3 separate regions of the Homo sapiens genome follow, and all the other regions are linked to region 1. Evidence: fine-mapped expression QTL. A gene starts in region 1. Each other region holds a variant in brackets. All regions are shown on one strand. Distances are from middle to middle.

Region 1 (2,833 bases):
AGTAGCCAAAAGTTCACTGGGAGACGTCAAGCTAAGTATAGCCCTTGGTGCAGTAAATCTACCGGAGACAACTCAGAGGTGCCTGGACTACGGGGCCCACATCGCAGAGCAGCCCAGATGGCAGCGGGAAAGGGAGAGTACAGCGCCTCACCCTCGAGCAGCACGATGCCTTTACGGATGTCATCATTGTACTTGCTCCGCACCAGGCACCAGGCGTACTCAAACTGCGTGCTCTTGGACACCGAGCCTGCTGCCTTCTCAGACTGAAATTTCTTTTCAAACTTCTGCCACAGGGGAGGAAAGGAATCATTTAGAAATGTAGGGCGTCAACCATTCTCTATCTGGACATGCCATCTCCCTGGCTCTGCCCCTTTCCCTCGCAGGTCTCGGTATCTGGCACCCCAGCTTCTGCTATCTCCATGCCCGGGACCCAGGCTTTCGGCTCCTCCGGGCCTGCGGGCCAGCTCTTGGGACAGAGGCCCCCGGTCTCCCCTCCCCGCGGCGGTACCGAGCGGAGATGCCACCTGGTGGCAGCTCCAGGCACCGCTCCCGGAGCAGCTGACCCCGGCGGCCGAACAGTAAACACGCTGTCAGAACTGCTCAACAGCCCACGCGGTCCTCATTTGAGGCTGCTGGCCCCATCCTGCCCCACCCTGCCGGGCCTGGACCTTTTATTGTCCAGGAATAGAAGTAGTGCCTACCTCCTAGAGCTACAAAGACTGAGATCTGGCATGCGATGCCTTAGCACCGTGCCGGACGCAGTAATAGGTGACACCTTATGATGGTCACTGTATTCCTCCACCGCTGGAGGAGCGCCCTGAGCTCACAGCTCCTGCATGATCCCAGATCCCGTCAGTCTAACCACGGTCGGGCTCCAGGCCCGTAGTCTGAGGTGTGGGGGGCTCAGGACACTACAACTCCCAGGAGCCTCTGCGGCATAGCAGGCCCTCCGGGCAGGAGCCAGGCGCTGTGGAGGCTGCCGGGAGCCGTAGTTCGGCTTCCCTCGGCCAAGCCGATGCCGGGAGGAGGGTTCGGCCCCTACCTGACTCTCCTCAGGACCCGCCCTCCGACCTTCCCTTTCCCTCTGTCCGGGCCAGGCCTCACCAGCAGGTCCTCCACAGACACCAGCTCGTTCAGCACGGCCTCCATGGCCACTGCCCCCGCGAGCCTCACACTACAGTCTACTGTGCCACAGTCTCCATGGCCCAGTGGCAGGGGCGGAGAACCACTTCCGGCGTCCGGCGGATGCTGGCACGACCTGGCGACGCCCCGCCCCTTCCTCTCAGTTCAGCAGCGCCGGCGGGGCGCTAGTGCGCAGGCTCGGCCGGTCCCTCCAGCCCGCAGACTGCGCGCAGGGAGACCTTCCCCAGGTTGGTCTTCCCAGGTGCCTCAGCCGGTGCCTTCCTCTGTGGAGGCTTCCCTAGGGAAACTGGAGGCCATGTCTTGGCGGTTAGCCCCCAGGATGAAAACAGCAAAAAGAGGGTGGGTAGCTGACCAGAGATCACAGTACATTAGGGTGCCAAGCTGACGCCCCTCAGAAATCTAGGACCTTGGAGGCCACGTGACTATTCATCGCCTGCAACAAAATCTTAACTAGAACCGGGAGCCCGGCGCGTAGCTCACGTCCGAAGCCCAACAACTTGGGAGGCCGCGGCGGGAAGATCGCTGGAGGCCAGGAGTTCAAGACCAGCCTGAGCAACATAGCGAGACCCTATCTCTACAAAATTTTTAAAAAAATCAACCGGCGTGGTGGCGTGCACCTGTACTCCCAGCTACTGGGGCGGCTGAGGCAGGAGGATCGCTTGAGTCCGGGAGTTCGAGGCTGCAGTGAGTTATCGCGCCACTGCACTCCAGCTTGAGCGACAGAGACCTTGTCTCAAAAAACCCACCAACAGCAGCAAACTAGTATCGGGGTTTCTTGGGCCTCTGCTGACTCTCACAATGCAAGAGCAGAGGCAACTGGATCTGTAAACCACACAGCCACACAGGGGTAGTCATAGGAGACACTATCAACGGGAAGTTTTTCAAAAAGCAACGGCCCCATTATTGGCAGAGAAGGTCCAATTTTCAATATTATTTACATAAACCATTTTGGGAGTGCACCCCAGGCGGGAAACCTGCCACATGGGGTCACGGGCAATGGGGAGCTTAGCAGTGAGGAGCTATCAGAGCATGGGAAGGAGAAAGGTGTGGACACCTCTGGCTTCAGTTTCTGTGCAGTGAGGGGACTGGGTAAGTAGCAACTTTCAAATTCTTTTCCCCTTGAGTCACATTGGAGTGTAAGTTCCTTGAGGGCAGAGACTTACCTTGCTTATCCAGCATCTAGCACAGGGCTTGGCAGAGAGTGAGGGCTCAATAAATATTTGTTGAATAAACACGGAAAAAGCAAATTAATTGTAAACAAGGCACTGCACATGCAGGGGATAATCATCCAGACACCTTCCGCGTTTGCAAAGCCCCTTTAATTTTTATTATTTTTTAGAGACAGGGTCTCATTCTGTGGCCCAGGCTGGAGTGCATGCAGCGGCACAATCAGAGCTTACTGCAGCCTTGACCTCCTGAGCTCCTGTAATCCTCCTGCCTTAGTCTCCCAAGAAGCTGGGACTACAGGTGTGCACCACCACACCCAGGTTGTTTTTTGTTTTTTGTTTTTTTTTTCCGAGACAGTTTCTCGCTCTGTCACCCAGGCTGGAGCGCAGTGGCACAATCTCGGCTCACTGCAACCTCCGCCTCCTGGGTTCAAGCGATTCTCTTGCTTCAGCCTCCCAAGTAGCTGGGATTACAGGCGCCGGCCATCACACCCAGCTAATTTTTGTATTTTTAGCAGAGATGG
Region 2 (2,500 bases), 23 kb before region 1:
CCATGTAGTCCTCCCACCGCAGCCTCCCAAGTAACTGGGACTACAGGCATGTGCAACCACGCCTGGCTTATTTTTTAATTTTTTGTAGAGATGGGGTTTGGCTATGCTGCCCAGGCTGGTTTCTAACTCCTGGCATCAAGCGATCCTTTGGCCTCCCAAAGTGCTGAGATTACAGGCGTGCGCCACCACACCCGGCCTCACCAGGCGCTGGCTGCATGGCCAGTTCTGGAGCCCGGGAGCAGGTTCTGTGTTGAGGGAGTCACTCTGGGAGTCATTTGCTTGTGGGTGATCATCAGAGCCCTTTGTTTGGAGTCAAAATCCCAGGAAGAGTGCATAGACTGAGCAGAGAAGAGGGCCAGCCACCTCCATAGAGGCAGGGAGAGCAGCCGAGCTGGAGCCGGAGGATTCCTGGACATGGAGAAGGCCTGCAGTTTTGTCAAGGAAGCAAGCAAAGGGTCTCTTTCTACTCGATGAAGGTAGTCGGCACCGCCACAGGGTGGACAGGGCTCAGGTCCAAGGAGGAGGAGGAAGGCACACTGGAGCCGCTCTGGGGCCCAGAGCGTGGGTGGGTGGTCCCCCAGGATGACCAGGCAGGTGTCAGATTTTGGGGTTCAAGGAGAGGATGGGAGGTGAAAAAGTGACACATCACGTGAGTTGCTGTGAAGGAGAAGGAGCTGTGAAGCCGAGTAGACACATGAGCGTCGCCAGCTCTTTGATGGAAAGTGCCGGTTGAGGAGGAGGGGTTGAAGATGGGAGAGGGAGGGAATGGGCTGGAGGTGAAGGCTCGGGGTCAGTGGTGGGACTTGGGGCGCTCCAGGGCAGGGGTGTGCCCACTTGGCATCACGTTTGTGGGTAGGTGGCCTGGAAGATGAGCGTATCCAAGCATGGGTGGCCCCTGGTTCCTTTGAGGTAGGAGGTGAGATGCTGAGTGTGAGGGCCATGTGTATTGAGGGCCCAGGACAGCCTGGAAGCCCCAGGGCGCTGTGACCTCCCCAGTCAGCAGTGAGCTGTCTCCAGGCCGGGGCTCACTGGCTGGGACTGGGATTGAGAGGAAGGCGGAGAAAACAGGCAGGAGAAACTGAAAGGGTCTCAGCTGGCGGGACAGGAAGTGTGGGCCCAGGGCTTGGCCCGGGAGGAGACAAGGGGACCAAGGGCTTGGCAATGGGGATGAGATCAGAGAGCTGCAGCTTCCACCCCGGGTGCCTTCCTCGCCCTGCCCAGAGCGGCGGCCACACTGCTCTTTCTTGGAAGCCCTGTAACTTTG[C/T]GTGCCCTGCTCCATCCAGTTCGCTCCCAGGACCCCGGGCAGCGGCGGGTGCTGGACCGGGCTGCCCGGCAGCGTCGCATCAACCGGCAGCTGGAGGCCCTGGAGAATGACAACTTCCAGGATGACCCCCACGCGGGACTCCCTCAGCTCGGCAAGAGACTGCCTCAGTTTGATGACGATGCGGACACTGGTGAGGCGGATGGAGGAGGAAGCGGGGGATGGGACTGAGAGGAGGGCGGGAGAGTCCGCCCAACTCAGGCTGTGGGAGGACCCAGGAGCTCCTGGTGCCTCTGCCAGTGACTGGCTCCCATGGCTGTGAGCAACCACACCCCCTTTCTGTGCCTCAGTTTCCTCTCGTGTATGTGAAATAAACAAGAGAGACTGGATAAGCTCTGACACGAAGCCTTAGGCTTGGGGGCATGGAGGTGACTGTCAGCTGGGATTGGAGAATTGGGGTGGAGGGCAGAGGCTGGTAGCGAGGGGCCGACTTAGAGCCAGGAGGGCAGGGCCAGGTGTGGTGGCTCACGCCTGTAATCCCAGCATTTGGGAGGCTGAGGTGGGCGGATCACTTGAGGTCAGGAGTTCAAGACCAGCCTGGCCAACATGGTGAAACCCCATCTCTACTAAAAATACAAAAACAAAATTAGCCAGGCATGGTGGTGGACACCTGTAATCCCAGCTACTCAGGAGGCCAAGGCAAGAAAATCACTTGAACCCAGGAGATGGAGGTTGCAGTGAGTCAAGATCGCACCACTGCACTCCAGCCTGGGTGACAGAGTGAGACTGTCTCAAAAAGAACCAGGAGGGCACATGGGCATGGGGAGTGATGAACCAGAGAAAGCTGCTGTCTTTCTGGGCAAGTGCCAAGCAACGGATCACCCTTGACCCCTAGGAAAGAAAAAGAAGAAAACCCGAGGTGATCATTTTAAACTTCGCTTCCGAAAAAACTTTCAGGCCCTGTTGGAGGAGCAGGTGAGAGGAGGGTCGGCCTGGGAGGACCCCACAGGGAAGGGGTGAGCCTGGCCCGGGCAGGTGTTCGCTGCGTGGGTGGGCGGAGGAGTTCTAGAGCCGGCCCCTTGTCTCTGCAGAACTTGAGTGTGGCCGAGGGCCCTAACTACCTGACGGCCTGTGCGGGACCCCCATCGCGGCCCCAGCGCCCCTTCTGTGCTGTCTGTGGCTTCCCATCCCCCTACACCTGTGTCAGCTGCGGTGCCCGGTACTGCACTGTGCGCTGTC
Region 3 (2,838 bases), 37 kb before region 1:
GAGTGCAGTGGTGCGATCTTGGCTCGATCTTGGCTCACTGCAACCTCTGCCTCCCGGTTTCAAGCAATTCTCATGCCTCAGCCTCCCGAGTAGCTGGGATTATAGGCACCTGCCACCACACCCGGCTAATTTTTGTATTTTTAGTAGAGACGAGGTTTCACCATCTTGGCCAGGCTGGTCTTGAACTCCTGACCTCAGGTGATCCACCCACCTCAGCCTCGCAAAGTGCTGGGATTACATGTGTGAGCCACCACGCCCGGCCATCGCAGGGTGTCTTCAGGGAGATGACGGTCCCTGTCCAGGGAGGGGAGGGGAGGGGCGGCGGGACCCCTGCGTAGGAGGCTCTCGCTGCTCACTGGCATTAAATTAGGGCCAAGCCTCACCTTGGGTCTCAGCCTGGCGCCCTCCCTCCCCTGGGGTGCCTCCTGCAGCGTCTCATTCCCCTGGGAACTAAAATGCATGGAGCCCAAATGCTGCCGGGGCCGAAAGGGGTCTGCGTGGAGACTTCCTGTCCGGGACTGGGGTGGGGAAGGTGGGGAGGCAGCTGGCAGGTGGGCAGCGCACCTTGGTGTGGTAACCGGGAAACAGGCTCTCGGTCATGGGGCCCACATACGTCCGCAGCAGCTGCAGCCACTGGTCCTCGTACCCCACCTGCTTCATGTGGATGTCCACGGTGGGCACATTCTCGTAGCCTCCAGCCAGCCTTGAATCCTGGGGGCGGCGGGCACTGAGCCACCCGCCCCTCCAGCCATGGCGCTCCCCACCCCAGGGCAGTCCAGCCTCCTTCCTCCCGTCCTCCAGCCTTCACACCTGTGTTCCTCTGTGCAGAACAGTCTTCTTTGCTACTTCTCGGCCTGACTCACTGCTCCCGGCCCTTCAAGTCTCAGCTAAGATGTCACCTGTCCTGTGAAGCTCCCTACTCCTCCCAAGTCTGGGTCAAGGCTTCCCCGTGGCTTCTATTGCACCCAGGCTGCTCATCGCAGCCTTAGAAGCTGTGTGGTGGCTGCTGCTCACAGCAGGGCAGAGCTCGACCGGCATGAGGCATTCCTGCAGTGCAGTCTAGGACAGTGGCCCAGGAATGATTTCCTTTTCTCTTTTTTTAGAGACAGAGTCTTGCTCTGTCACCCAGGCTGGAGTACTGCGGCATGATCATAGCTCACTGCAGCCTCTAACTCTGGGGCTCAAGTGATCCTTCTGCCTCAGCCTCCTGAATAGCTGGGACATGCCACCATGCCCGGCTAATTTGTTGGTTTTTCTGAGATGGAGTTTCACTCTTGTTGCCCAGCCTGGAGTTCAATCTTGGCTCACTGCAACCTCTGCCTCCCGGGTTCAAGCAATTCTACCTCAGCTCCCGAGTAGCTGGGACTACAGGCGCCCGCCACCATGCCCGGCTAATTTTGTGTTTTTAGTAGAGATGGGGTTTCTCCATGTTGGTCAGGCTGGTCTCGAACTCCTGACCCCAGGTGATCCACCTGCCTCGGC[C/T]TCCCAAAGTGCTGGGATTACAGGCGTGAGCCACCGCACCTGGCCCAAACTCGGCTAATTTTTAAATTTTTTGTAGAGACAGGGTCTCGCTATGTTGCCCAGGCTGGCCTCAAACTCCCCCTGCTCGAGCAATCCTCCCGCCTCAGCCTCCCAAAGTGCTAGGATTACAGGCATGAGCCACTGTGCCCAGCAGTAAATATTTCTTGAATACATGAATGAATGCAGTTGTGACCCCAGGGTCTGCCTCCCCCCTGGGAACCCCTCTTTGCTCCCATTTTCCTGATTCCATTGTTTGTTTACCAGATCCTGCACCTCCTCCTCTGGGAAGGCCTCTGCCCTCCTCGCCCAGGCCCTTACCTCATGCCGGCCGCCTGACCACTGGCCGTAGTGCTCCATCTCTGCCACCAGCTCATCACACATTTGTTCTGACAGCAGTGGGAACCAGTACACGTCCGGGCATGGCTGAGGATGGGGCGAGGGAGAACAGGGCTAGCTGACGCCGCAGAACGGGGAAGGGGACAGGCAGCAGGCAGAATGGGAAGGGGCAGGGAGGAGCAGGGAAGGCTTTGTGAGAGCAGCCGGGGACCCGCCAGGTAGGGGCTGAGGGAGTGGCAAGGCTGAGGACCGGTTTCTGGCACAGGAGAGGTGGCAGAGGGTCCTGGAGCCCCTCGTGCTGGGACAGTGGTTTCCAAACTTCCGTAACAGTGCATACCTCTTTTTTTTTTTTTTGAGATAGGGTATTGCTCTGTCAACCAGGCTGGAGTGCAGTGGCACAATCATAGCTCACTACAGCCTCGACCTTCTGGGCTCAAGCGATCCTCCCGCCTCAGACTCCCAAGTAGCTGGAACTACAGGCACATGCCACCATGCCAAGCTAATTTTTTCTTTTCTTTTTTTTTTGAGACAGGGTCTCGCTGTGTCACCCAAGGTGGAGTGCAGTGGCGTGATCTTGGCTCACTGCAACCTCTGCCTCCCAGGTTCAAGCGATTCTCCCACCTCAGCCTCCCGAGTAGCTGGGACTACAGGTGCACGCCATCACACCTGACTAATTTTTGTGTTTTTTTTTTTTTTTTTTTTGGTAGAGACAGGATTTGCCATGTTGGCCAGGCTGGTCTCGAACTCCTGACCTCAGGTGATCTGCCTGCCTCGGCCTCTCAATGTACTGGGATTACAAGCATGAGCACCACTCCTGGCCTCATTTCTTATTTAATTTTTTTGTTGTTGTTGTAGAGACAGATTCTCGCTATGTTGCCCAGGCTGGTCTTGGACTTCTGGCCTCAACCGATCCACCCACCTTGGCCTCCCAAAGTGCTGGGATTACAGGCATGAGCCACTGAGCCCAGCCCCATTCTTCTT

Direction of the effects. Positions count from the first base shown, and alleles are read on the strand shown. Sizes are in standard deviations (SD) of each study's normalised expression. Not every link is listed here.
In carriers of allele T in region 2, the expression in aorta of the gene that starts at base 1,226 in region 1 tends to be lower than with C alone (large effect, 1.0 SD a copy in GTEx).

The links. PIP is the estimated chance that this variant, and not a neighbour inherited with it, causes the effect. A credible set is the group of variants that fine-mapping cannot tell apart.
Region 2: its variant is the best candidate, but not a certain one, in a credible set for the expression of FIS1 in aorta (GTEx, PIP 0.50).
Region 3: its variant is the best candidate, but not a certain one, in a credible set for the expression of FIS1 in lung (TOPMed, PIP 0.52).

Annotation. Positions count from the first base shown.
Region 1 is chr7:101,243,856-101,246,688 of GRCh38, forward strand. It overlaps FIS1 (fission, mitochondrial 1), which reads right to left and starts at 1,226. Exons shown (of 5, transcript NM_016068.3): 1 at 1,105-1,226; 2 at 152-284. The coding sequence starts at 1,149. RefSeq lists enhancers at 870-919, 1,010-1,249.
Region 2 is chr7:101,221,321-101,223,820 of GRCh38, forward strand. It overlaps ZNHIT1 (zinc finger HIT-type containing 1), which reads left to right. Exons shown (of 5, transcript NM_006349.3): 2 at 1,284-1,454; 3 at 2,157-2,236; 4 at 2,353-2,500. Among named protein-coding and RNA genes, the nearest start is that of ZNHIT1, 4.4 kb to the left of the region's middle. The variant C/T (reference allele first, on the strand shown) is at 1,265.
Region 3 is chr7:101,207,014-101,209,851 of GRCh38, forward strand. It overlaps PLOD3 (procollagen-lysine,2-oxoglutarate 5-dioxygenase 3), which reads right to left. Exons shown (of 19, transcript NM_001084.5): 16 at 1,840-1,944; 17 at 565-711. Among named protein-coding and RNA genes, the nearest start is that of MOGAT3, 7.4 kb to the left of the region's middle. The variant C/T (reference allele first, on the strand shown) is at 1,483.